Linked DNA regions of Homo sapiens. The protein of the gene in region 6 purifies or fractionates together with the protein of the main gene of each other region. This does not show direct contact. Each region holds a gene or a part of one and is shown on either strand. Other genes may lie near its edges.

Region 1 (4,030 bases), on a different chromosome or scaffold from region 6:
CTAGCACTGATGCCGCATCAATATGCCCAGGGCACCCACACTGCGACATCCGGTCTGTAGTCATCTATATGTGCCATTGCCCAGTCCATATCTCTCTATTCTGTCCTCGGAGGTATTTGGAAAAATCAGCAGATGATGATATTACCATCTATTTACATCATTCTTCAGACCTACCTACTAGCCTGGTAACTTTATCCAAAAAGGAAATAAGGTGAGGAGGGTATGGCTGCTTTCATGTTCCCGTGCTGGGGTTTACTACATAAAGTTGTATTGCAATTTTTCACTTACATGTTGACACTAGCTGCTTGGTAACCCTTTTAAACATATCTAGTTCATGTTCATTATAGAAAATTTATAAAGTGTAGATGAGCAAAAATTTTTAAATCCCTAAACCCCATTTCCCAGAGAAGGGAACCACTTTTCACATTCTGTATACATCCTTCTAGGTTTACACAACCATACACAATCTTTTCAGAGGCTGATTAGCCTTTGAAACTCATCTAAGAATTCTGCTAAAGCACAACATCAAATTTAATAGCTAAATCCCCCAAAAACACCTTCTCCAGTTCTTAAAACCAGGAAGTCTGCTCATCAATCATCTCTGGTGCTATCATGCAAGACTACCATGTGCAACTGTACAAGCTGTACAGGGCACAATTGTACCCAATAGTTCTGCATACTGATTTTCAATTGCTTCACAATGTTCTACAATTTGAAAAATCACAACCACAGGTTTTGCCACTATCCAGGCATACAATGTATTTAGGCCTACTTGTCTATAGGAGCTATGTGATTGCTAAATATCTTCACATCTTTCTCAAACACAACTTTGCTAACCTTTGTTTTAAAGCCATTATTCTTGGGTTGGGGGGATGGTGGGATTAGGTTAATGGGAGTGAAAATATGTTGTTTCTTTCTATTATCACTATACTATCTATTCTAAGCACACTATCCCTTCATCCTTTATAATCTGGCTCCAAATAGTTAATTATTTTGTTTTCAACTCTTTCAATTTACTTCAACATTTTGGACAATTTAACATTATTTGGAGTTTGGTCTTCTTGGTACCATTCTCAAAGGTTTCACAGGGACTCACTCTATCACCCAAGTTGGAGTACAGTGGCACAATCATGGCTCACTGCCACCTCAAACTCCTGGGTTCAAGCAATCCTCCCACCTCAACCTCCCAAGTAACTAGGACTACAGGCACATGCCTCCACACCCAGCTAATTTTTTTTTATCATTTGTAGAGATGAGGTCTCACTATATTGCCCGGGGTGGTCTCCAACTCCTGGGCTCAAGCAATCCTCCTGCCTTGGTCTTGAAAGTGCTGGGATTACAGGCGTGAGCCACTGCGCCTGGCTGCCTTTCTTCCATCTTCTATGTTTACTTAAAATCAGGGAAATCCAAGGATAATCACGTGGGGTTCTGCTTGTGCCTCTCCATCACTAGGATTGACAAATTATTCATCAGAATTTCAAACTGCAGAATCCGTCAGCCTTCTTTTATCACATTTTTGTTCAGTCTCTAGCCGTGGACTAACAGACTTAGCTCTTTCAATCTTTCTAACGCTGGGGTACTTATCTATCTTCCTTTTCTGATTTCTACACTTAATATTAGAACATAGCTAATTACAGCATCTCACTCTGTTGCCCAGGCTGGAGTACAGTGACATGATCATGGCTCACTACAGCCTTGACCTTCCAGAATCAAGTGATCCTCCTGCCTCAGCCTCCCTAGTAGCTGAGACTACAAGTATGCACTACCATGCCAGGCTAATTTTTTTTAAAAAAAATTTTAGTAGAGACAGGATCTCACTATGTTGCCCAGGCTGAGAACATAGCCACTTTTAAAGTAATGTAAACTTCACATCATTAACCCAAATCCTCCTAACTGGTTATAAACACATCTCAAACTAATTCCTCTCTAGAACCCTCTGCTCTCTGAAAGGTGAAACAAATGGCAAGACAAGGATGCATTAGGGGCTGCATGGTGGCTCACACCTGTAATCCTAGAACTTTGGGAGGCCAAGATGGGCAGATCGCTTGAGTCCAGGAGTTTGAGACCAGCCTGGACAGCATGGCAAAACTCCATCTCTACTAAATATACAAAAATTAGCCATGGTGGCACACGCCTGTAATCCCAGCTACTTGGCAGGATGAGGCGCGCGAGAACCACTTGAACCTAGGAGGTGGCGGTTGCAGTAAGTGGAGATCATGCCACTGCACTCTAGCCTGGGTTACAGTGCAAGACTCTGTCTTTTTTTAAAAAAAATAAAAAATAAAAAGAATGCATTAGATACTCGCCTTTTCAAACCTCAAAGGCTGCAACATCCCCATCATCTGTGACGGGAAAGCAGCACCCAAACCTTCAACCTATCTGGGTGGTCTATAAGCCTGTGTGGTTGTATCTGACTCAACTCAGGGTTACTGATTTTCAAAACAACAGCAAAAAGAAAAGATCCCCCCAATCTTCTCCTGACCTACAAAATCAGAATCTCTAGACGGTAAGGCCCAGGAATCTGGGTGTGGTTTTTTTGTTGTTGTTGTTGTTTTTGGAAACAGATTCTCACTCTGTCGCCAGTATGGAGTGCAGTGGTGGGATCTCAGCTCACTGCAACCTCCACCTCCTGGGTTCAAGCGATTCTCCTGCCTCAGCCTCCCGAGTAGCTGGGACTACAGGCGCACACCACCATGCCCAGGTAATTTTTGTATTTTTAGTACAGATGGGGTTTCACCATGTTGGCCAGGATGGTCTTGATCTCTTGACCTCATGATCCACCCAACTCGGCCTCCCAAAGTGCTGGGATTACAGGTGTGAGCCACCGTGCCCAGCCAGGAATCTGTATTTTTAAGAAGTGCCACTAGATAATGCTGAAGTATTAGGAACTATTGGTTTATAGCAATGATATCCCTTTTAGTCCTCTTTGATTCCCCCATCAATTGCTCACAACTAGGCTATCATGAGTTTTTACAGAAATAAATCCCTTACTAATACTTATTTCTTCCTCTTTCAAATGCCATCAGTCCAATTAAGCAACATCTCAGTGATATCTATGAGATTTGACCTATTTCCTTTGTCTGATACTTTAAATGCATTTCCTCCTTCTATGAGGCAGCATGTTTTAGTCTTGTGAAAAACACACTGCCTGAAAGTCAGAAAAACTAGGTTGCATCTCAGTTCTGTCAACTGCTAGTTGTGTGACCTTAAGCAGATCAGTTTTCCTTTTAGGATCTCAGTCTTCCATAATATCAGAATGATATTAAATGTCTGAAATAAATTACATCATATAATCTTCACAATAACCTTCTGAGATAGGTACTCTACATACCCTCATTTTACATAGAGGGAACCTCCCAGTCTTGCTGCGAAAGTTTAAAAAACAGCATACGTAAAGAGCTAGGTAAATAAGAAGTTCACTCAAGAAATATCAGTCTTTGTTCTACTCTCCCCCAAATCCTCTCAGCAGATATCAATGGACAAGGCCGATACACAATATTCTTCTTGTTACCTTCTGCAGAAAAAATACTACGCATCTCCTCCAGCAAAAAGCTAACCCCCCCCCCTTTATTTTCTTGGTATAAGTCTCATGGCCCCTTAAATGTTTTGAGAAGAACAGGAATCACACAATCTCTATTCAGGTACCTTAGAGTGGCCACCCTCAGGAGCCATGCAGAGCATGTAACTTTCTGGTTTCAAGCCTATTCAGGACAAAGAGGTTACTGAATAAGGTGGTCCATTTGCCTGGGCTAAAAAGTGCTTTGAGGTGTTAAAACTAAGCATTTTCTGAAGTACCTATGTCTGGCTCTCATTACTCTATCATGCTGAGACTCCCCCATCTCTCACCACCACCCCCTCTTCCTAAGGCAACAAGAGGACACATTACAGCCTCAGAAAATTGAGGCCATAATACTTCGCACACAGTGCTGAAGACATGCTGCTGTTGTTAATTACAGGAACCAGATGAAAGTCTGGAAAAACTTCAATAATAAATTAAAACAATTAAAAGGCACAAATTTCAAAGCTCAAT
Region 2 (3,745 bases), on a different chromosome or scaffold from region 6:
CCAGGCCCAACTTAGACACTTACTCGCTACATGATCTTACGCAGGTCATCAGCCTTCTCTGAGCCTCCATTTGCCCCTCTAGAAAATGAGAGTCACAAGAGTGCCCTCCCCTCATGTGCTAGGTTCTGCTCAGTCAAGGCCTGGCACAGAATAAAGGCTAACAAATGCCAGCTTCTACTTCTTTCATCATTTTTATTCTCCCTGTCCATTGTTCGCAACTTCGAAATGGGCCCAGTTCCTTACGGGAGGTAGGATCCCTTGGAGACCCCAGATCAACTAGAAATGTCTGTGGATTGGCCAGGCACAGTGGCTCACGCCTGTAATCCCAGCCCTTTGGGAGGCTGAGGTGGGCAGATGACTTGAGGTCAGGAGTTCAAGACCAGCCTGGCCAACATGGTGAAACCCCATCTCTACTAAAAATACAAAAAACTTAGCCAGGCATGGTGGTACACACCTGTAGTCCCAGCTACTCGGGAGGCTGAGGCAGGAGAATCGCTTGAACCTGGGAAGTGGAGATTGCAGTGGGCCAAGATCGTGCCACTGCACTCCAGCCTGGGCGACAGAGCCAGACTTCGTCTCAAAAAAAAAAAGAAATACATGTCACCAGTTACCTTATAGAAAAGAAAACTCATCTGTCCGCTTCAAGAATGGGAAATTTTTTTCCTTTTTAACACTTTTTACCAACACATATGTATATAAACATCCAAGGCCAGACAGGGAAACTACTTATATGACATCAGCATCTCTGAAGCATGAGTTTCTGTCCTTTGTGTATCTTCTCAGTCCCCCAAATCTACTCTCTGAATCACTGGAGAAGGTGTGAGGAGAGGCAGACCGACCACCGAAGACAAGTCCTGACTTTCCTCCTCACTCTCCTCCCTTCCCTCCTGGGGTTTGGTGATTGATCCCTCAACCTCCCAGGGGCAGTTCAGCCTGCCGGGAACCTACACCTTGGTCAATACCTGCCACTGTTTGGTGACTGCCCACACACATCAGGTGCCCCAGTAAGGCGCTGGGGAATAACAGAGGAGCCATGTGGTTCCTGCACCCACAGGGCTCAGTCCCATGCAGGAGACAGGCATGAGCAGCAACTCACATGCAATGTGACTAGGACCCCATTGCGGGAGCGAAGGACGCTATGGGAAGAGGGACAAGAGGCGACAATTCAGCTAAGGCCTGAAGCTGAAGAGAAGTTAGCCAGGGGAGGGAAGGGCCCTGCTGGCAGAGGACGGAGACAAGAGCTGCATGGTGGGCTTAAGGAACTCTAAAAAAGGCCAGGATGGCTGCTTCAGAACCTGTAAAAGGCTCAGTGAAGCCATGGAAGGGTTTTAAGTACAGAGAGGTAACCGATTCGCATGTTATAAAGGCAGCTCCAGCTAAAACATGGAGAACTGACTGGAGGGAGTTCTGGAGGGAGACTAGAGGGAGGGAGCAGGAGAGCGGCAGAGCTGGACACAGAGACCCCCATCACAGATGAGGGCAGTCCCAGAAATCCCAGGACAGAACGGTAGTGGCTTGGACTAGGCCGGGGCAGTGGACACAGTAGTGGTCTATCTGTGGGGGCAGGAGGTGGAGTTGGGCATCCCAACCAGACCTGTCACTGGCTGGGTTCCCCCTTCATCCCTCTGCTGCCTCATCGAGCTGTGGTCTCCCTCCTCCTAATGAGGATGTGAGGGTCTCAGCTGCCCACTCTGCTTTGCTGTCCCTTTCCCAGTGCCTCTGGAAAGAGAACCAGAAAGACATGGTTGGAGCATCTCAGGGAGGTGGAAACCCACCAAAAACGGGAAGCGTCAGTGGCCAGTCTCTCCCTCGCTGCAAACGCCAGCAGCCCCCACGGGCTGTCTGGTCTGCGAGGGCCAAGGTAGGCCTGAGGGTCGGTCGGGGATCTGGAAGTGCCGCTCACCATATCCACCCACTGCCACTCCCTCTAGCCAGAGCCGCAGAGCATGCGCTCCCAAAACCTTCTGATACCTGGCAGCTACTGCCTCTCCGCCCCTCCAGCTATTCCCAGCAAGGCGACATCTAAAGGCTTCGGAGGAGTCCCAGCAATTCAGTCCTCCCAGGAGCTGATGCCTCTCTGAATTCGCTGCTTCCTGTCCCAGCTAGCTGGGAAGAGTCCCCGTTTCGTGCCATCTAGCCCTGCATCTCCTAAGGGCCTCCTTCCCAAGCTTCAGCAGCTGCTGGCAGGAATGGGCCCCCAGGAAGCTGAAGTGGGCAGGGGCAGCTCCGCACATTCTCTGCTGGCACCGCACTCACTGCAGGTCCCTGTCGCTGCTCCTATACAAATCTCCAGTTCAGATCCCTCATTAAAAGGTCCCTCCCATCCTCAAAAAGCTTCCCCTCTCAGAGTTGCCACAGAACAGGGGCAGAGCCACACAATCAACTGTGCATGAACATCTACAGCTCTGCGGTCCCCTGCACAAACAAGCTTCCTCTGCCAGCCTGGAAGTTTCGGATGGGCAGAAACCACGTTACTTACTTCTCAGAATCCCCCACCTAGCAAATGCCTGCTCATTATCAGACTGCAGCTCCGCCACCTTCCTGCTCCAAACTTATGGTGACTACTGGCAGGACCTCCCTGGGGGCTGCCTTCTCTGCCATTCAACACACAGGTACCAAGCAGGGTCGCACGGCAGGTCTTCTGCTAGGAGCAGCTGTATTAAGCTCTTCAGAGAAAAGTTATTCAGAGTCCATCAGGAAAATCTGACACTGCCTAGCTCTTAAGGGATCTCACAGGGGAAGTCACACCGTCTGTTAGCACTAAGTGTTCAAGTAAAGGTGTGTAAAAGAGGTGCCGCTGATGGGAGAGTAAACTGGTGGGTCAATGTGGCAGAGTCATTCACTGTTTCTTTTTTTATTTTTATTTTTTTTGAGATGGCATCTCGCTCTGTCACCAAGGCTGGAGTGCAGTGGTGTGATCTCGGCTCACTGCAACTTCTGCTTCCCGGGTACAAGCGATTCTCCTGCCTCAGCCTCCCGAGTAGCTGGGACTACAGGCGCCCACCACCACGCCCGACTAATTTCTGTATTTTTAGTAGAGGTGGGGTTTCACCATATCGGCCACGCTGGTCTTGAACTCCAGACCTTGTGATCCACCTGCCTTGGCCTCTCAAAGTGCTGGGATTACAGGCGCGAGCCACCGCGCCCAGCCCAATCACTGTTTCATAAACACATCCATTCTACTATTCCACTCATCTGTTCTGCTTCATTCTTGCACAGGAATAAGGGGTTCTCACTGCAGCCATGTCTGATGGGGGAAAAACTAGAAAAAATCTAAAAGTCCACCAACCAGGGTCAAACTCAATCAGCTATGGTGCAAACATCCCGTGGGACGCTATGCAGCTATCAAAAAGAAAGAGTTCTCTGTGCTGATATGAAAGGAAAACCAAAACAGATTATTATGTCACAAAATGATACATACAGCAGTAGTTCATCTATTACATAAGCACAATAACTCTTCTCTCTCAGGAGAGAAGAGCAGGAAAGGGACGAAGAGAAGGAACTTTCCTTTTTCACTTACATATATATGTGTATACACACACTCACACACACACACACACCCCTCTGAGATGTCTGAATTTTTACTAACTTAACAGAATAAAAGAAAACAAAAGTACAAAGTGACAGTGCTGGTACCATGCCAGACACAAGTTCCTCTCAAACTCCAAGAAGGGTCAGTAAGTGAGGGGATAAACATCTTTTCTCTCATCAGCCTCCAGGATGAGAAGATGGTGTGGTGGGTGCT
Region 3 (4,030 bases), on a different chromosome or scaffold from region 6:
AAGCATGTTTTTAAGTTTGATATATCCCTTTAATTTTATGAATAAACTAGTTAACATGTATTTCCAGGTTACTGATCCAGCAAAATTATAAGAAACATTAAAATTCTCTGAAAATTTCAGTTTTTTCCCTTTTTTCAAAGAGAAAAACAATTATAGGAGACTTCTCCTGGCTTCACAGTTTCTGGATGCTGTGTTTTTGTTAACTGTAACACTTTGAAATAGCATTTGCTAAAAACCTTTTTTCTTTCTCTCTTTTTTGGTGATGTGGCAGAGAGAAAGACATTGAGATGTTCCTTGAGTCCAGCCGCAGCAAATTTATAGGTTACACTCTAGGCAGGTGAGTAAAAGCCGAGTTCATTTTGCTGTTAGCTCTCCCGGCCTTTGGTGTTTGGGATCCCAGGTGATTTGATGTCGAGGCTCAACACAGGGCCTTCTTTATTCTCCAGTGACACGAACACAGTGGTGGGGCTGCCCAGGCCAATCCACGAAAGCATCAAGACTCTGAAACAGGTGAGTGGCTTTGGGTGAGCTTTTGGCTTGTTTGGTCCTAAGTGAGTAGAGTGAAACCAGCCTGTAGGGAGAAGCCTTTTAAGACTGTTGTCTGCCTGCAAGAACCTGGGGTAGAGGCCGGGGTGGACTTTGCAATAACCTTGCAAACAGTCTTTCGTAAGTTTTGCTTGTTTTATTATAAGTTTTACTTGTTTTAGCTGAGCTTTTGTTTGGGACTGACTGGGAAGTCTTTAAAGATTATATTACCTGACCACCGGGCACCAAGGCATGCACCTGTAGTCCCAGCTACTCAAGAGGTTGATGCAGGAGGATTGTTTGAGCACAGGAGATCAAGGCTACAGTGAGCTATGATCATGGTCCTGCACTCTAGCCTGGGCCACAGAGTGAGACCCGGATTCTTTAAAAAAAAAAAAAAAAAAAAAAAGGATTATATTACTTGACAGTTGTTGAAATTCTAAAGAGCTCAATAAATAGCCCTCCTTTTCCTTGCCCACGTTCTCAGGCGGTTGAAATAGAGGAGTAGGCAGATGGAGATTGTAATGCCAACTTTATAGCTCATAGAGCCATGGAGAATGAGGCTTAAGAACACAGCAGTAGTGTCCTAATACGTTGTTCCAGAATTAGGCAGAGTTACCTACCAGTCCCAGGCAGTGTGGGGAGGCTCTGCCAAGCTTGGTGGCGGGGAGGAGAAGAGAGCAGACTCTCAGCAGGCAGACAGGTTCTAAAGAGAAAAGAGAAGGGTGAGGACAAGTCCGCCCTGTGTCCCCTCCCATACTCTCCGATCAGAGAAGGGAGGAGTGAGTGTGTGGACGGGGCAGAGAGAGATGAGGGGTGTTTCGCAAACCCCTGTCCCTCCACACGGGAGAGAACATTAAGAGTGGGGAAGAGGCATCTCCCCTAACAGCTATCTGGAGTGAAACTGTTTTTATGTTTTTGAAATATATTTTTGGAATTTGTAGTACTAAGTGGTCTCTCTGCAGCTAGGCTTTTTGAGTACTTGATTTTGCTTTCAGTTTTTCTCCTGTTGCTGTAGCTATCTGAAAGGCCATTTCCCTCCTTTAATTTACTTTTTTCTTATCTACCATGGGCTTCTTACTGTAGTTGCAAGAGGAAGGGGCCCTTTTAGAAAAATATTTTGGGGCCAGGCATGGTGGCTCACGCCTATAATCCCAGCACTTTGAGAGGCCAAGGTGGGTGGATCACCTAAGGTCAGGAGTTCAAGACCAGCCTCACCAACATGGCAAAATCCCATCTCTACTAAAAATACAAAAATTAGCCAGGTGTGGTGGTGCACACCTGTAGTCCCAGCTACTTGGGAGGCTGGAGCAGGAAAATTGCTTGAACCTGGGAGGCGGAGGTGGCAGTGAGCCAAGATCATGCCACTGCACTCCAGTCTGGGCAACAGAGGAAGACTTCATCTCAAAAAAATAAAAATAAAAAATATCTGGGGTTTGGGATTTTAGCTAGGGATTTTTGTGGTGACTTAATCCTCTTTCAGAAGACTGTGTTTGAAGACAAATGTGTGGGGATTTTGCTAGAGTGCAGGGAGTTTGGCCAGAGAATGTTTTCCCCAGCCCTTCTTTTCCCATCTCTCCCACCAGCACAAGTACACGTCGATTGCAGAGGTCCAGGCACAGATGGAGGAGGAATACCTCCGCTCCCCTCTCTCAGGGGTAAGTTGGAGGTCCTCAGTCCGGGCGCGGTGGCTCACGCCTGTAATCCCAGCACTTTGGGAGGCCGAGGAGGGCAGATCATGAGGTCAGGAGATTGAGACCATCCTGGCTAACATGGTGAAACCCCGTCTCTACTAAAAAAAAAAAAATTAGCCAGCCGTGGTGGCGGGCGCCTGTAGTCCCAGCTATTCAGGAGGCTGAGGCAGAAGAATGACGTGAACCCGGGAGGCGGAGCTTGTAGTGAGCCGAGATAGCGCCACTGCACTCCAGCCTGGGCGACAGAGCGAGACCATCTCAAAAAAAAAAGTTAGAGGTCCTCTTCAGCCCCCGGGATCCCCAGCTCTTCCCAGGCATTGTGCTGGGATTAGACCACAAGGTTGCCCCAGGCCCTGCCCTCAAAGAGCTCCCAGTCCACCTCCCAGTGCACAGGCTGAGACACGTCTAGTGCAGGGTTAAGAATACAGACTGAGTCAGGAACCTGCCTCTGATGCCTGGGTCCACCACTTTATGGATGGCAACTTAGGCAAGTTACTGGGTCTCTCTATGCTTTATTTCCTTGTCTGTGAAATAGGAATAATAATACCTTTATAGGGTTATAATAATAAGGATGAACTGAGTTATTACAAGTAAAATGCTTGGCACATTGTTTGTGTTCAGGGTTTGCTGTTATCATCATTAACATCATTATGTACATCACTGTTTACAGGTTTTCCTCCAGCCAGCTAGGAAGCTGGCTCAGGAGATTGTATTCTGGGCTGGGGTTTTATGCTTGTACTCATTATGTTAAAAGGGAGAAGAAGAAGTTGAGCAAGTCCCTGCAGAAACCCTCTACCAAGGCTTGCTCCCCAGCCTGCCTCAGTATATGGTGAGTGGTGCCTGCAGTGGGACACTCCCACTACACTGGCCTTAGAGCAGGCCCTGCCGTCCTCCTGCCACCTGCAGACCAACAGGAGGACTGCTCAGAGCTTAATTTTGACCCTGGGCTCTCAGACCTGTGTCTGAATGGTCTACTCTTCCCAGATTGCCCTCCTGAAGATCCTGTTGGCTGCAGCACCCACCTCAAAAGCCAAAACAGACTCAATCAACATCCTAGCGGACGTCTTGCCTGAGGAGATGCCGTGAGTATCATTCTGTGAATGAAGCAGGTGGGGCAGAAGATAGATGGAGAAGGGCAAACATTTTCCTCTTGTCAGGTTGGTTGTTGTTGGCCCAGCTCTACAGGTTAAATGTAGGTATTTTTGACCCAAAAAAAGGAAACTACGAGATTAAAGAGTTTCACTGGTTGGGGAGATGGCTTGGTCCTGTTGGCCTGGATTCTAGTGTAGACTCTACCACTGAGCAAACTCCTGAGTGAATTGGGGAAAGTCATTTCCTCCTCTGTAAAATGAATGGGGCCACCCTGGACATTTCCCCAAAGCCCCACTCTCCAGCTGTGATTGAGACACCCAGGATGAGGAGGGTTAGTTTGTAGACAGCTTGCCAGCAACAGCTGAACCTGTGCCAGGTATAGAGACATCCCTTTTCGCCAGTGATTGGGCACGCAGAATGCTGGCAAATGTCTCAGGGCGATAGAGTGAGATTCTTCAGAGCTCTTCTGCCCTGTGCCCTGTACTTGTCTTTCATGTGAGAGTCCAGATTGAGATCATGTTCTACTTTGAGAAGGACCTGGACCTTGACCTGATCTTCTGCCTGCCTGGGCCACCAGCCCTGAGCCCAGCTCCTGGGTGGCTGTGGCCCCGGAGTATGGCAGTGATGGCCGGCTGAGGGAGGAGGCAGGGGTTGGCTAACACCAGAGGGAGGATCACAGAACACTAGGCCATCATGTGATGGTCCTTGGAAAAAAGGTT
Region 4 (4,030 bases), on a different chromosome or scaffold from region 6:
TAATAACCATTCTAGGCTGGGCACCGTGGCTCACACTTGTAATCCTAGCACTTTGGGAGGCCGAGGCAGGCAGATCACCTGAGGTCAGGAGTTCATGACCAGCGTGGCCAAATGGTGAAACCCTGTCTCTACTAAAAATACAAAAAATTAGCCAGGCATCTGGGCATGGTGGCTCATGCCTGTAATCCCAGCTACTTGGGAAGCTGAGGCAGAAGAATCACTTGAACCCAGGAGGGAGAGGTTGCAGTGAGCCGAGATTGCGCCACTGCACTCCAGCCTGGGAGACAGGGCAAGACTCCGGCTCAAAAAAAAAAAAAAAAAAAAAAACCATTCTACTATCTGCCATCTAATTTGAAGAGCTTGACTTCCGAAAAGGATGAAGGATAATACACAGGGCCAGCATCCAACAAGGCAATATCCAACTGCTACATTACTGAGAAGATGATTTGGTAAAGATTATGAAACTCTGCTTTGTGCCAAACCTGTCACCCTTCAACATGCAGATTTAAGTATTATACAATAAGATATTCCATGAGCTTAGCATTAAAAAGTGTCACTTAGATTTCCACCTGCCTACATTTTGCAGATATTCTAAAATGAACATGTATCATTTGAATAATCATAAAGTTTCAAGTGTTTATTATTTCTTCCAACTTTTTTTTTTTTTTTGAGACAGAGTCTCACATTGTCACCCAGGCTGGAGTGCAGTGGCGCGATCTCAGCTCACTGCAACCTCCGCCTCCCGGGTTCAAGCAATTCTCCTGCCTCAGCCTTCCCGAGTAGCTGGGATTGCAGGCACATGCCACCATGCCCAGCTAATTTTTTGTATTTTTCGTAGAGACAGGGTTTCACCGTGTTAGCCAGGATGATCTCGATCTCCTAACCTCGTGATCCGTCTGCCTCAGCCTCCCCAAGTGCTGGATTACAGGCATGAGCCACCAAGCCTGGCCTATTTCTTCCAACTTTTTTTTTTTTTTTTTTTTTGAGACGGAGTCTCGCTCTGTCGCCCAGGCCGGACTGCGGACTGCAGTGGCGCAATCTCGGCTCACTGCAAGCTCCGCTTCCCGGGTTCACGCCATTCTCCTGCCTCAGCCTCCCGAGTAGCTGGGACTACAGGCGCCCGCCACCGCGCCCGGCTAATTTTTTGTATTTTTAGTAGAGACGGGGTTTCACCTTGTTAGCCAGGATGGTCTCGATCTCCTGACCTCATGATCCACCCGCCTCGGCCTCCCAAAGTGCTGGGATTACAGGCGTGAGCCACCGCGCCCGGCCTTCTTCCAACTTTTAATGAGCCTCCCATAATGGACAATGCAGAATGCAACAGTCACCACAAAGTGAAAGTCACCCAAAGCACATATTACCCCAATTGTCGACCGCCCAGGTAAACTGCCAATTTAGACAAAGTTATCAACTACATCAGTTTCAATTTTAAAAATTTCTTCTGGCCAAGCACAGTGGCTCATGCCTGTAATCCTAGCACTTTGGGAGGCCGAGGCAAGTGGATCACCTGAGGTCAGGAGTTTGAGACCAGCCTGGCCAACATGGTGAAACCCTGTCTCCACTAAAAATACAAAAATTAGCCAGGCATGGTGATGAATGCCTGTAATCTCAGCTACTTGAGAAGCTGAGGTAGGAGAATCTCTTGAATCCAGAAGGTATAGGTTGCAGTGAGCTGAGATCGCACCACTGCACTCCAGCCTGGGTGACAGAGCCAGACTCCGTCTCAAAAAAACAAAAAACAAAAACAAAAACAAAATTTATTCTATATATGCCATCACATTAAAGAAAATAATTTCTCATCACCTTCCTAAGACTCCATAGCACTATAGCAAATTGCACAGTGTTGTCTAAATAGTTCCCTCTTCCCCACTAAACACCCTCTCTGCTGAGTATTGGGTGCTTAGTAAGAGCCAGGGACAGGGTGCTAAGTGATTTATATAATTACCTCAATTCTCAAAACAATAATAGGTACCATTATCATCCCCAGATGTTTAAAAAAAAAAAAAAACCTGGCCGGGCGCGGTGGCTCATGCCTGTAATCCCAGCACTTTGGGAGGCTGAGGTGGGTGGATCACCTGAGGTTGGGAGTTCAAGACCAGCCTGACCAACATGGAGAAACCCTGTCTCTACTAAAAACTCAAAATTAGCCACGCGTGGTGGCGCATGCCTGTAGTCCCAGCTACTCGGGAAGCTGAGGCAGGAGAATCACTTGAACCCAGGAGGGAGAGGATGTGGTGAGCCAAGATCGCGCCATTGCACTCCAGCCTGGGCAACAAGAACGAAACTCCTTCTCTGAAGGGATTCTTTTTTTTTTTTTAAGAGACAGGGTCTTGCTTTGATACCCAGGCTGGAGTGCAGTGGCATAATCACAGCACTGCAACCTCAAACTCCTGGGCTCAAGCAACCCTCGTGCCTCAGCATCCCGAGTAGGTGGGACTACAGACACTGCAAATTTCATACGAGAACTATTTGGTCGCACTGTGGGTTTTCTTTGGAACTGTATCCCTCACAGTGTCTGGCACATAATAGATGCTCAATTAAAACCTACTATCTGTCCAAACCAAAACTTTAAATAGTTAATTCCTAAAACAATTCAATGACATGGTAAGATCTGACAGAGCATCCGCTATAACTAGATTAAGTGGTATAATAATCAATAATTACATCTATATCTAAAGTAGTGGTCTCATAGCCTGCGTGTTATTTTAGCTAATAAAGCAGGAGGAAAAAAGTGAAAATGGTAGAAATAAGCCATATCTACCATTCAAAGATAAGTTTTTCTGAAGAACTAATTTCATGGCCGGGTGTGGTGGCTTATGCCTGTAATTCCAGCACTTTGGGAGGCCGAGGAGGGTGGATCACTTGAGGTCAGGCGTTCAAGACCACCCTGGCCAACATGGTGAAACCCAGTATCTACGAAGAATATAAAAATTAGCTGGGCATGGTGGCATGCGCCTGTGATCCCAGCTACTCAGGAGGCTAAGACACAAGAATCGCTTGAACCCAGGAGGCAGACGTTGCAGTGAGCTGAGGTTGCGCCACTGCACTCTAGCCTGGCCACAGAGCGAGACTCCATCTCAAAGAAAAAAAACAAATATTAACATGTCATCTCAATTCATGAAACAGTCACTACTGACCTATTCTTAGTTATCTCAAAATAACCTATTGTGAGAGTTTTAGTACAGCCATGGAAAGCACTGGGCATGAAATCAGTATTTTTCAAATAAGTAAAACAAAAAATGGGAGTCCCCTTCGAGTGTTTCATCAAAGAAAGTGCATTCGCAGAGTATGTACTGTGAGCCAACCTGTTGTCTGATTAGTTTAGACCTGTTGCCCAAGAACATAAAATGGTGAAAATGTAAAAGCTGGTTGAGTTAAGGCACTACTTAGTAGTAAACTGATGTTTGAATTCAACTGCTGGAAAAATGAGTTCTATGAATATTCATTTTAAAGAATTATGAGGGCCAGGTGCAGTGGCTCACGCCTGTAATCCCAGCACTTTGGGAGGTTGAGGCAGGTGGATCAACTGAGGTCAGGAGTTCAAGACCGCCTGGCCAACATGGTGAAACCCTGTCTCTACTAAAAATACAAAATTAACCAGGCATGGTGGCGTGTGCCTGTAATACCAGCTACTTTGGAGGCTGAGGCAGGAGAATCACTTGAACCCGGGAGGCAGAGGTTGCAGTGATCTGAGATAGCGCCACTGCACTCCAGCCTGGGTGACAGGAGCAAAAATCTGTCTCAAAAAAAAAAAAAAAGGATTACGAGTAATCTATGAAGTATTTTAGGCACCCTAACTTCAGCTTGCGAGGAGCGAGTGAAGGGTCTGTTCCACAGGTAAATGAGGATCTGGTGTTAAACAGAAAAGTTAACATACTCTTCAGTTCTCATCCTACACGTAAAGTATAGATATTATGCAGCACACAGCACTTGGACAATCTTTTCCTCCTTTCTTTAAAAAATAATTTACAAAATAATTCCTTAAATCAGTAGCTGCCGAAGTATCATTTTTTTCTCTTCCTTTTGAGGC
Region 5 (4,030 bases), on a different chromosome or scaffold from region 6:
TGGCTTACTGCAGGAGCGCTACGGGAAGGTGTGTGGTGGGAATCCCATGCAGAGAGAACAGCAAGGACAAAGACCCCGAGGCAGGACCATGTTTAGGAAACTCCGGGCATCCAGCGAAGCTAAGGGAGTAAGCAGGATCAAAGTAGGAGACAAGGTCAGGCTCCAGGTTCACTGACACCAAATGTAGTTCTAATAAGATCGTTCTTTAGCTCTTTAGAGTTTTCAAAGAACTTTCTTTCATATATAATTTTATATGATTTCCACAACAACTCATCATAGGAAGCTCAAAGATGTTACATTACTGAGATAGGTAATACAATTAGCAAACATGGGGGCTTAGAATTTAACTGAAGTCCTCGGTTTTCAGTACTTTTCATGATACTTTACCTCAGAGATTAATAATTTTAAAGCATTAAACCTTTTTTAAAAATATCACCAATTCCATCACAGAGCTGTGTTTTTACAAAAATAGACCTTTCTGATCCCTGTGCTGTGATTTAAAGCATCTGGTTATTGTTCTCTTTTTCTGTAGTTAACTTCAATAGACTTTAAAAATTCTCTATTGTTGTAATTTAGATGTCTTTATAAAGCCATTTACGTCTATTTTCTCATTTTAATGTGTCTTTAAAATATTTCTTATCACAACACTTTTTGAAAATGTGGCGTTTTTGCTAACCCGAGTTATGTAATTGTTAGAAAATTAATAAAAATCTCACAAAAAGCATTTCCTTGGTGAAAAGAAAATTCTGTATATTAATCAGGGTTTTCCTGTGAATTTCTTTCAGCTGGAAATGGAGAAGCTTCAGCTACAAGCCCTTGAGCAAGAGCACAAGAAGCTGGCTGCCCGCCTTGAGGAAGAGCGTGGCAAGAACAAGCAGGTGGTCCTGATGCTGGTCAAAGAGTGCAAGCAGCTCTCAGGCAAAGTCATAGAGGAGGCCCAGAAGCTCGAAGACGTAATGGCCAAACTGGAAGAGGAAAAGAAAAAGACGAATGAATTAGAAGAGGAACTCTCCGCTGAGAAACGAAGAAGCACAGAAATGGAAGCTCAGATGGAAAAACAACTCTCTGAGTTTGACACTGAGCGGGAACAGCTTCGTGCCAAGCTGAACCGGGAAGAAGCACACACCACTGACCTCAAAGAGGAGATAGACAAGATGAGGAAAATGATTGAGCAACTGAAAAGGGGAAGTGACAGCAAACCAAGCCTCTCTCTTCCACGGAAGACAAAAGATAGGCGTTTGGTTTCCATATCTGTGGGAACAGAAGGAACTGTGACAAGGTCTGTTGCATGCCAGACAGACCTAGTGACAGAAAATGCTGACCACATGAAAAAGTTGCCTTTAACCATGCCTGTAAAACCTTCCACAGGGAGTCCCCTAGTTTCTGCAAATGCAAAAGGGAGCGTGTGCACCAGTGCCACCATGGCCAGACCAGGTATTGACAGGCAGGCTTCCTATGGTGACTTGATTGGCGCTTCTGTACCCGCTTTCCCACCTCCAAGTGCAAACAAAATTGAGGAAAATGGACCAAGCACTGGCTCAACACCAGATCCAACCAGTAGCACACCCCCACTTCCCAGTAACGCTGCCCCTCCCACCGCTCAAACACCAGGCATAGCTCCTCAGAACTCGCAAGCTCCACCTATGCACAGTTTACATTCACCATGTGCCAACACCTCTTTGCATCCAGGTCTAAACCCACGAATCCAAGCAGCTAGATTTAGATTTCAGGGCAATGCTAACGACCCAGACCAAAATGGAAATACTACCCAAAGTCCTCCGTCAAGAGATGTCTCGCCTACAAGTCGTGACAACCTAGTGGCCAAACAACTAGCTCGGAATACTGTGACCCAAGCACTGTCAAGATTTACAAGCCCTCAAGCAGGTGCTCCCTCAAGGCCTGGAGTGCCCCCAACAGGGGATGTTGGCACCCACCCTCCAGTTGGTCGGACCAGTTTAAAGACTCATGGTGTAGCACGAGTTGACAGAGGAAATCCTCCTCCTATCCCTCCAAAAAAGCCAGGGCTCTCCCAAACTCCTTCTCCACCACACCCCCAACTCAAGGTTATTATAGACAGCAGCAGGGCCTCGAACACAGGGGCCAAAGTTGATAACAAAACTGTGGCTTCGACTCCTTCCAGTTTGCCACAAGGGAACAGGGTGATCAATGAGGAGAACCTTCCTAAGTCATCCTCCCCTCAGCTGCCACCAAAACCATCCATAGATTTAACTGTGGCACCTGCAGGCTGTGCCGTTTCAGCCCTGGCCACGTCTCAGGTGGGTGCCTGGCCTGCTGCAACCCCCGGACTGAACCAACCTGCATGTTCAGACAGTTCCCTTGTCATTCCTACCACCATTGCCTTTTGCTCTTCCATAAACCCCGTTAGTGCCTCATCCTGTAGACCAGGTGCCTCAGACAGCCTCCTGGTAACAGCATCAGGTAAAGGGATTGAAATGTTATACGCTTTTTAAAGAATATGGCCTCTCTTCTCACTTGCCTTGATTTTCTTCACATTGCCTTGAAACTTTTTTTTTAAATTTGATGCTTCCCCCCACCCCCATTTCTTTTCTTTCTCTCTCTTTTTTTGTATTTTTTTTAAAGGCTCCAGGGTATGGTGATTCATCTTGCTATATGAATTGCGGTTTCGCTATGCTAAGTGCTTTCTTCATTTAAGATAACCTGAAAGTAGTGGCTTAAAGCACATGGAGACCATTAATTTAGAGAGACTAAAATATTTACATGGGAGAAAAGAGTATTCCTTCTTATTAAATATTTATCTCGCAAGACCTCAGTGGGTCATGATCAGACAGTACGTGTTCAATTCTGTTCCTTCTGAGATGACATTTTTAAAGACCTTTCAAGTAATTATTAACACTATGTTGGATTACCAAATTGACTAGATTTGTTCCGTAATTGGTATATTTTAAGTTCTAATATCAGTTTGGTGTTTTCGGTTTTTTTTTTTTTTACCTTCAGAAATGGAGTGTGAATATTTATAAATCTGTTCTAAGTTTAGTTTATTTCAAAAGCCATGTACCCTATTTAGTGCTGCCATCTTCCAACACTCGGGCACAGATGGTTAACATAGCATGTGGGCTATGTCACAGAAGGTTTCCACTGCAGGTGTGGCTTATGAAGTCACTGAATCTGGGACTCTTGAACAAAGAAGAGGTGGATTTTTCCCTTTTGTTATACAGTGCTAGAGAAAGCATTGCTTTTTACTGACATGACTGGATTAGTTATTTACTAAGCAAATGTGGCTCTAAAGTAATGTTACCAAAAATACATAATTGTAAATGGCAGAGACTGGATTCCAAACACATCTGACTAACTGCAAAGTCCATGCTGTTTTCAATTCCCAATTTTACCCCTCAAAATGTGGATGACAAAGTTCTGTTGACACTTTGAAGAAGTCTCTCCTACCATGGGATCTTAGTGGTTGGTGGAGATTGTTGGTTCAAATGGGAGAGAACTTTTATAATTACAGGAAGGTTTGAACAGTTGTTATATTTAATACTTTGAGGGGAGAGAGAGAAAAGCAAATAGCATCATATTTGCTAATTATCAGGTGATGACAGCAGTACACTAGGATTTATTTGTCCAATTATAAGCTATCAACTTGAAATTAAGGTCTTTGAGAGGCTTTATCCATATTTTGAGGGGCGAAATAGGGAATTGGAAGCAGCATGGACTTGGAAGTTAGATCTATGTTGAAATCTAGTCTCTGCCATTTACAATTGTGCATTTTTGGTGACTTCTTTTGCTACTCATATGGGGGAGGGTGGCTGTTAGGAGGATTGGATCCTATAACCTGTCAGCTTGGTATTGAGCTTAGAATAGCATGAGTAATCAATAAATAGAGGTGATATTACTGCTTCAATGATATTGTTGCTTACAGTATTTTTGAGAATTTGCTATGGAATTGACTTTAGTATTATTTTGAGATGTCTTTACAGGCATTCAGCATTCTATATTTTTGATCCAAAATGGTATTACTGAGTTGAACAGCTTTTCTCGTGGCCTAAAATAA
Region 6 (4,030 bases):
AACTGTGGTAAATCTACCACTTTGCAGGTTCTCTCTAAAAAGGCAGCCAGTAATCTTTTCTTTGGTGGTAATTTCCTTTTTTTTTTTTTTTTTTTTTTTTGAGGCAGAGTCTTACTCTGTCGCCCAGGCTGGAGTGCAGTGGCATGATCTCGGCTCACTGCAACCTCTGCCTCCCGGGTTCAAGCAATTCTCGTGCCTCAGCCTTCGAAGTAGCTGGGATTACAGGTGGCGCCACCATACCTGGCTAATTTTTTGTATTTTTAGTAGAGATGGGGTTTCACCATGTTGCCCAGGCTGGTCTCGAACTCCTGAGCTCAGGCAGTCCGCCCACCTCGACCTCCCAAAGTGCTAGGATTACAGGCGTGAGCCACCGCGCCTGGCCTTTTCTTTGGTGGTAATTTCCTGATCTGTTGAAAGGCCAAAAGTACACTGTGGATTTTAGAAGTGATGTCTTTTTTTTAGTGATGAGGGTTTTTGGTGGTGGTGTTTGTTTTTTGAGAAAGGGTCTTGCTCTGTCACCCAGGCTGAAATGCAGGGGCACGATCTTGGCTCACTGCATCCTTCACTTTCTTGGGCTCAGGTGATCCTCCCACCTCAGCTTCCTATGAGTGGCTGGGACTGTAGGAGTGTGCCACCACACGTGGCTAATTTTAAAATTTTTCTGTAGAGATGAGGTCCTCACTGTATTGCCCAGGCTGGTCTTGAACTCCCGGACTCGAGTGTTTCTTCTGCCTTAGCCTCCCAAAGTGCTGAGATTACAGGCATGAGCTACTACTGCACCTGGCCTTTTTTTTTTTTTTTTTCTTTTTTTAAAAAGACATTTGTGGTGAGTAAGAATTGCTTTGGGGTTTATGCCCACCTGTTCCTCAGAGCTGGCTATGGATGATCTTATGAGTGAGTTGTCACTAATGTTTGTATCGGGACTGGAATTCTCAGATGGTTGCAAGTCATTTGAGGTCCCAGAAGTCCAGCATAGAGATAGGGAGATTGTGGGCAGATCTCTTGAGCCTAGGAGTTCAAGACAAGCCTTGGCAACATAGTGAAACCCTGTCTCCACCAAAAAATACAAAATTTAGCCAGGCGTGGTAGTGTGTGCCTGTAGTTCCAGCTACCTGGGAGGCTGAGGTGGAAGGATTGTTTGAGCCTGGAAGGTTGAGGCTGCACTGAGCCAAGATCATGCCACTGCACTCCAGCCTAGGTGACAGAGTGAGACCCTGCTAAGAAAAAAAAAAAAAAAAAAAAAAAAAGATGGTTTGGTGGAGAAATACAGTCTGATGTTGTAAATAGGCTAGATAGGGAGTGGCTACTAGGGTGAGAAGGAACTAGGCTGTTTGTTTACAGCCACTGGCAAGAGTTGTTGCAGCAGAACTTTTAGTCCATAGTCCTGACTCTTAAAGGATGCTTCAGGAGTGAGCACCTAGGGCTGGCATATGGACAGGTGTCCCAGAACAGCATGGTTTGGCATCACCTCCTCCAGTCCCTGCCACCGGGGAGCTTTGCCCGATGGTTTACAGTTCAGGCATAGGAAGCTGCATTGATTACAGTGATCACACAGACATCCTTACAGTATTGGGGGGTGGGTTGGGGTGAAAATTAGTGGTTAGATAGTAAGTGTTGTTGCCATGGATTCGGGAGATCAGATATACTAGCCCTAAGGAATAACCCATACATAGTTCTTGTGTTGAGTTGCATTAGGTTTGTCCACTGGGCCTGTCATGTGACCAGTAGAGAGTAGAGTGAGCAGCCGTGGGTTTTCTAGGCCAGGAGAGGAGGAGCCAGCATGTAGCTTGTGTAGTCTCCTTTTAAAGATGCTCTTTGCTGAGGTGCCTTTTGCACTTAATTGAAATCAGCTGGAGTGAGATGTTTTCTTAAGTCATATAAGATACATAGTAAGAACTGAGAAAGCAATTTTCTTTTATTTGAACCCCTCCACCCGTCACTTCAAGATAGGCTATTTGTGTTTGTAGCTAGCTGTGCTGTTCTCTTGGATACCCGTGATTTTAGCTGACTCAGGTTCTCAAGTCTGAATATATTGTACTTGCCTTTCAGTGACATGCCAACCCAATTTCCCACGGGGCAGGTGGAGGCGTTTAATGTTAATTGGGGAAAAAAATCAATATAAGTCTTTTAGAATTATTCCTTTTTTTCTTTTTGGAGACAGGGTCTTGGTCTGTTGCCTGGACTGGAGTGCAGTGGTGCGATCTTGGCTCACTGTAACCTTATACCTTGTGGGCTCAAGCAATTCTCCCACCTCAGCCTCCCAAGTAGCTGGGACTACAGGCACATGCCAACATTCCCAGCTAATTTTTTTTTTTTTTTTTTTTTTGTATTTTTTTGTAGAGACGGGGTTTCGCTATGTTGCCCAGGCTGGTCTCAGACTCCCACCTCGGCCTCCTAAAGTGACTGTTTTTGTTATGAAGAATTATCGGCCGGGCCTGGTGGTTCAGGCCAATAATTCCAGCGCCTTGGGAAGCTGAGGCTGGAGGATTGCTTGAGCTCAGGAGTTCAAGACCAGCCTGGGCAACATAATGAGACCCTGTCTGAAAACAAAGAAAAACACAATGAGATACTACTTCACATGCACATAAATGGCCATAACCAAAAAGACAAATGATAACAGTGTTGTTGAGAATTTGAAGAAATTGGAATCTTCATACATTGCTGATAGCAACGAAAAATGTTCTAGGTCTTGAACTCCTGGGCTCAGGTGATCTTCTAGCCTCAGCCTCCCAGTTAGCTGGGATTGCAGGCACATGGGCTCCTTGTGATTTTGATTTGCATTTCCCTATTTAATGATGATACTGAGTGTCTTTTCATGTGCTTATTGCTCATTCCTATAGCGTCTTTGGTTTAATATCTTTCCACGTCTTTTGCTCATTTTTAAATGGATTGTCTTAATATTGATTTGCAGATGTTGTTTGTATCAGGTCCCTTATTGGATATCTGCTTTGCAGATATTTTTTTCTATTCTGTGGCTTGTCTTTTCACTTCATTAGCAGTGTCTTTTGAAATCACGAGTCTTTAATTTGATCAAGTTCAGTTTATCAATGTTTTTCTGTTATTGCTCATGCTTTTGCTGTTGTATCTGAAGAGATTTTTGTCTAGCCCAAGGTCACGAAGATTTACTCCTGTGTTTTCATAGAAGAATTTTATAGTTTTAACTTTTACATTTAGGTCATTTTTGTTTTACATTTTGAGGTCATTTTTGTTTAAAGTGTGAGATGTCCTAAATTCACCTTTTTGCATGTGGATACCCAGTTGTTTCGGTACCTTTAATTGAAAAAAACCCTTTCTACATTCTATTGCCTTGGCAATTTTGTCGAAAATTAGTTGACCATAAAAGTAAGGGTTTGTTTCTGGACTCTTAATATTTTTCTATTGATTTATTTTTCCACTGGGCTATCGTTATGTCATTACCAGACTGTCTGGATGATCATATCTTTGTAATACATTTTGAAATCTGGACTGTAAGTCATTTGACTTTGTATTTCTTTTTCAACATTGTTTTGACTATTTTGAGTCCTTTGGATTTCCATATACATTTTAGGATACAGCTTTATCGATTTTTGTAAAAAAGACAGCTGGGATTATGATTGGGATTGCATTGAATCTGTAGATTTAATTGGGGTGATGGTGGTATTGCCAGCTTGACAATATTGAGCCTTCCAATCCATGAACATGGAATTGAGTTTTGAATGTTAAACCAAACTGGTATTCCTGTACCATTTGGTCATATATTGCTGGATTTGGTTTGCTTGTCTGTTCTTATGGAGACTCTGGTAGTATCAGAGTTTAGGTCTTGGGGTGGTGAGGATGAACATTTTAACATGTTTAGTTTTAAAGTATATTTCATTGAACCTCCCTTCTTCAGTGGTCTTTGAAGAGTTTTGAGTGCAATCACCATTGAATTTCTGGCTGGCTTAGCTGTCTTATTTATAAAGTTATTTTAGGCACCAAGAAATTTCTAACTGCATATAACTTTCAGTATTGACAATTTCTCTGATATTTCTCCTTGAACTTTTCAAAACAA
Region 7 (4,030 bases), on a different chromosome or scaffold from region 6:
AGCCCCAAAGAGATGGAACCTGGAGGTGGCAGGTACTGCAGAGGAGAGGTGAAATGTAGAATAGAAAACAGGAGAACTGGCTCAAAGCCTGTTTTTTTGTTTGTTTGTTTTGTGTTTTTTTTTTTTTTTTTGAGACAGTCTTGCTCTGTCACCCAAGCTGGATTACAGTGGTGTGATCTCAGCTCACTGCAACCTCCACCTCCTGGGCTCAAGCTATTCTTCTGCCTCAGCCTCCCGAGTAGCTGGGATTACAGGAACGCCACCATGCCTGGCTAATTTTTGTATTTTTAGCAGAGATGGGGTTTCACCATGTTGGCTGGCCTGGCCTCGAACTCCTGACCTCAAGTGATCTGCCTGTCTTGGCCTCCCAAAGTGCTGGGATTACAGGCATGAGTCACTGTGTCTGGCCTTCAAAGCCTGTATTTTCAGAATTATTTGTCCCTTCACCCTGATTCCTGCACACAGACCATCAGCATCTGGCCTCTGTCACATCTACTATTCCCAAATCCTGAGCCTGTCACATTCAAGAAATAGTGTGACAGGCTCAGGATTTGGGAATAGTAGATGTGACAGAGAATGGTGGTGGGAAAAGAGGATTAAATTTGTTCTGGGTAAGGGTTAAGGAGAGGAAAGGGAGGCGGGGTGTAAGATAACTAAATCTGCACCTATATAAAAGAAAGTAATATAAATGTCTAAAATTGATAAAGCAAGAGAGAACAGTGCAGTATTTAGAAATATGGAGGTTAGCTACCAAAGTGAATGGCTAAAAGAAAAAACTGGTTGCCTGTGAATACTGGGGAGGATGGGGAATGAGAAGAGGTGGAATAGAAAACTGTTTTTCATTGTAAGCACAATGACCATGTAATTTATTATTCAAACCAGAACATTTCTGACAGTCAAAGGGAATATGGTTAATAACTAAGCCAAGGTGACAGGCATAAGCTGAGACTATGAGCACCCTAATTATAAGCCTCTAGGTACTGTTTGATTTCTAACAAAGTCAGTCTTCTACTTTGATAAACCACTTAAACTTGAACCTGGGAGGTGGTGGTTGCAGTGAGCCAAGATTGTACCACTGCACTCCAGCCTGGGTGACAGAGTGAGACTTCACCTCAAAAAAAAAAAAAAAAAGAATAGATAGGTACTTTGTTTCAAAAATTTAATATTCACTTAAAACATTTAGCACTGCAATATAGTATTAAGAAATTTTGAATTATTTTTAACTTCTTCCTCTCTCCAATCACCTAGAAACACAAACTGTCCCTAGTACACCTTCCATGGGCATGAAAGCTAGCCCAACTAGCTTCAACACAACTCAGTCACCTCATGGATGAAGTGGAAATAAAGCCTGCCTATTAAACAAGAATGTTGTGAAGATTTTTAGAGAATTATGTAAAAGCTCCCCCTCCACCCAATTTAGGCAACTAACTCCCACCCACTGATACCTTTTAAATTGGAGTGTAAATGTTTTCAGATTACTTCATTCTAACCAGAGGTTAAACATTTTTGGGTCTTGGGTAACTTGGAGAATCTGATTAAAGCTATGGAAAAAATACATTTCCTACAAAAATGCATAAACTCTGAACATTCTGTCTATTTTCTGGGGGACTGTGGAACATCTGAGGCCTATCCATGGTTAAGAAGTTCCACTCTGGCCTTTCATTTGGCTTCTGTGAAGGGAAAGAAAAGATCACGGGCAAGATCCAGAGCCTAGAAAATGTATCAGATGCAATTTAAGAAGATGGCTCTAATGCTGATAACCATAAAAGTAAGGTCCACCAAATTTTGCAGCTGCTAACCCTATTTTTCAGATGAAAATGTTTCCTACCAAATGCACTGATAACTGCCTTGTTGGCATAAATCTAAACTGACAGTGTTTTAAAAATGAAGATTGTAGCCAAGCATCTTTTACAGGCCAAATTTGAGGAGTAAATGACAAGATGACAAGTTGGTGAATAAATTCACAAGCACTAGAATTCCAGTAAGATGAAGCAGAGGAAAGCACAGGTTTGCCTTCTTAGGGCTTGTTAGAAATGGAAACACACACACACACTCTTTACTAATAGGGTAGAACAGCTTTAAAGTAAATACTGTAAATAACCATAAGGTTTGCCTTCCTATTTTAGGGCTTGTTAAATATGGAAAACACACACACACACACACACACACACCCCTCACTAATAGAGTAGAACACCTTTAAGGTAAATAAACCAAGGGACTGTTTATGGTTTCATGAGCAACAAAATGCAATGAAACTCAAAACTAGGAATAATAGGAATAAATGAAAATAATCTATTGGCTTCTGTGTTTATCCTCAGGTAAATTCTTTCTCTCCCTTGGATATAGCATGCCTCAAATACCTGTTAATCTTTTTATTTATCTCTTAAGTAAGCAAATAGAGAACACTCCCGTCAGCTACAAGCTTGGCCAAACCCCAAAGTTTGAATGATCAAGAACTGAAAAAACATACAAAGTGTTTTGGAGTGACATATCAAGAAGAAATGCTGTCTTAAATAACGTGTCTGGCACGTTCTCTAAACTTAACATTTGCAATAAGCTGTGTTTTCTTTTTTATCTCCTGGCTCTTACATAAACTAAGGGGCTTTTTGATACCCGTGAGATGTCCCAATTGAATTACTGTGAAAAACTGGCAGCTGACAAGAAAGTATCAGGCATAATTTATAAAGACTTCACAAAGATTTACACATCAACTGAGGTGAACCTACCTTTCGGTGCCTGCTCTCAGCAGCAGCCAGCTGGGACAGCATGCGCTCCTGCATGTTCTTGCACTGCTTCATCACAACCTTAAGAATAGAGAGTGGATTTGTGCAGACTGGCTGCTTTTCGCCATCATTTTTCTCCTTCAGTGTTTCAAAATCTCTCTGTAGAGCCATTAAAGGATCACTGATGTTATATTTTCCATAGCGTTCTTCAATGAAAGTATCTCTGTGTTGGGCCTGGGAAAGAGGAAAAAAAATAAGCATCTTGCTTTTTAAAACTACTGAGGAAGGGGGATTTGCTATCCAGTGGTTATACATTAAAGGTTGTGGTATTAGTATAAATGTAACCTACTAATTACAAGTCAGATTGAGCCATCTAAAGAAACAGCATTAGAAAGGTGGCATGGTATATTAACAAGAACAAATACTTATAAAGCACTATGTATTAGACATTGTTTTAAATATTTATAGTCAGATTAACTTGTTTAAAATTTACAACCCTGTAAGGTAGTGCTATCATCTCGATTTTGCTGATGAGAAAACTATTCCTGGTTACTCATCTAGCAAGCTGTCTGAATTGGGATTTAAACCCAGGCAACCTGGCCCCGAAGTCTGTGTCCTTAACCTCTGTGCTTACTGACTCTGCTTATATCTGCTTATGAATGCTTATATTACCAGCAGGTACATCTTATTTTTTTCCGTGTTATGGTACTAGCATTTCTAAAACATGTTAAGTATGATAATTTTATGAGTTTATATATTTAGAGACCTAACAAAATGCCAGCAGATATATAAAGTGTGCAAAATATAAGCAGGATCACATTACAATCTAGGACTACTTGTGACCTGTACATATGAACCATTACTCAGTTGTTGATGGGTCAAGGAGGATGGAGGCACCTCATAACCAGACATGCAGACAAAACCTCTTCCACCTGCTGCCAAATTCCACCCCCTCTTCTTGTCTCTGGTTGTTACTTTCCATTCTCTTTTCTGTCTCTTTCAAGGCTTGATGAGCCTTGGGGATGAGCATGTAAGAAAGGGATGCAAGCTGGTGCCTGGAGTCTGGTCAAGGACGTTAGCCCTGGGTACCCAGTTGGGAGTATAAGGATCAGGAAGTGGGTGGAAAGATATTCCTAGGCTTCCCTCTTTCCTTATCTCTGTAGGAAGAGCTTGAAGAACTCCACATGAGCATCATACATTACATGTACATTACTTTTTACTTATTACACAGATATTTAAAAGTTTCTTGAGATATTTTACAATGAAAAATGAAGTGTTAACACAGGGTTGAAGAAACTAAAAAGTCA

What was found.
Region 1: the proteins of ZRANB1 (region 6) and FBXW11 purify together in Homo sapiens (affinity purification with mass spectrometry; 3 studies listed by BioGRID and IntAct, with this or other methods). This does not show direct contact.
Region 2: the proteins of ZRANB1 (region 6) and STRN4 purify together in Homo sapiens (affinity purification with mass spectrometry; 4 studies listed by BioGRID and IntAct, with this or other methods). This does not show direct contact.
Region 3: the proteins of ZRANB1 (region 6) and STRIP1 purify together in Homo sapiens (affinity purification with mass spectrometry; 4 studies listed by BioGRID and IntAct, with this or other methods). This does not show direct contact.
Region 4: the proteins of ZRANB1 (region 6) and SLMAP purify together in Homo sapiens (affinity purification with mass spectrometry; 3 studies listed by BioGRID and IntAct, with this or other methods). This does not show direct contact.
Region 5: the proteins of ZRANB1 (region 6) and CTTNBP2 purify together in Homo sapiens (affinity purification with mass spectrometry; 3 studies listed by BioGRID and IntAct, with this or other methods). This does not show direct contact.
Region 7: the proteins of ZRANB1 (region 6) and CTTNBP2NL purify together in Homo sapiens (affinity purification with mass spectrometry; 4 studies listed by BioGRID and IntAct, with this or other methods). This does not show direct contact.

Annotation. Positions count from the first base shown.
Region 1 is NC_000005.10:171,902,034-171,906,063, forward strand, and holds part of FBXW11 (F-box/WD repeat-containing protein 11), read right to left. Parts: intron 1-4,030.
Region 2 is NC_000019.10:46,739,710-46,743,454, forward strand, and holds part of STRN4 (striatin-4), read right to left. Parts: intron 1-3,745. UniProt on the Homo sapiens protein: Calmodulin-binding scaffolding protein which is the center of the striatin-interacting phosphatase and kinase (STRIPAK) complexes.
Region 3 is NC_000001.11:110,044,569-110,048,598, forward strand, and holds part of STRIP1 (striatin-interacting protein 1), read left to right. Parts: exon of another isoform or gene 1-119; intron 120-271; coding exon 272-337; intron 338-446; coding exon 447-510; intron 511-2,111; coding exon 2,112-2,183; intron 2,184-2,973; coding exon 2,974-3,048; intron 3,049-3,203; coding exon 3,204-3,301; intron 3,302-4,030. UniProt on the Homo sapiens protein: Plays a role in the regulation of cell morphology and cytoskeletal organization. Required in the cortical actin filament dynamics and cell shape. Part of the striatin-interacting phosphatase and kinase (STRIPAK) complexes.
Region 4 is NC_000003.12:57,759,008-57,763,037, reverse strand, and holds part of SLMAP (sarcolemmal membrane-associated protein), read right to left. Parts: intron 1-4,030. UniProt on the Homo sapiens protein: Associates with the striatin-interacting phosphatase and kinase (STRIPAK) core complex, forming the extended (SIKE1:SLMAP)STRIPAK complex.
Region 5 is NC_000007.14:117,789,537-117,793,566, reverse strand, and holds part of CTTNBP2 (cortactin-binding protein 2), read left to right. Parts: intron 1-785; coding exon 786-2,439; intron 2,440-4,030. UniProt on the Homo sapiens protein: Regulates the dendritic spine distribution of CTTN/cortactin in hippocampal neurons, and thus controls dendritic spinogenesis and dendritic spine maintenance.
Region 6 is NC_000010.11:124,976,490-124,980,519, forward strand, and holds part of ZRANB1 (ubiquitin thioesterase ZRANB1), read left to right. Parts: intron 1-4,030. UniProt on the Homo sapiens protein: Ubiquitin thioesterase, which specifically hydrolyzes 'Lys-29'-linked and 'Lys-33'-linked diubiquitin. Also cleaves 'Lys-63'-linked chains, but with 40-fold less efficiency compared to 'Lys-29'-linked ones.
Region 7 is NC_000001.11:112,447,869-112,451,898, reverse strand, and holds part of CTTNBP2NL (CTTNBP2 N-terminal-like protein), read right to left. Parts: intron 2,958-4,030; coding exon 2,727-2,957; intron 1-2,726. UniProt on the Homo sapiens protein: Regulates lamellipodial actin dynamics in a CTTN-dependent manner. Associates with core striatin-interacting phosphatase and kinase (STRIPAK) complex to form CTTNBP2NL-STRIPAK complexes.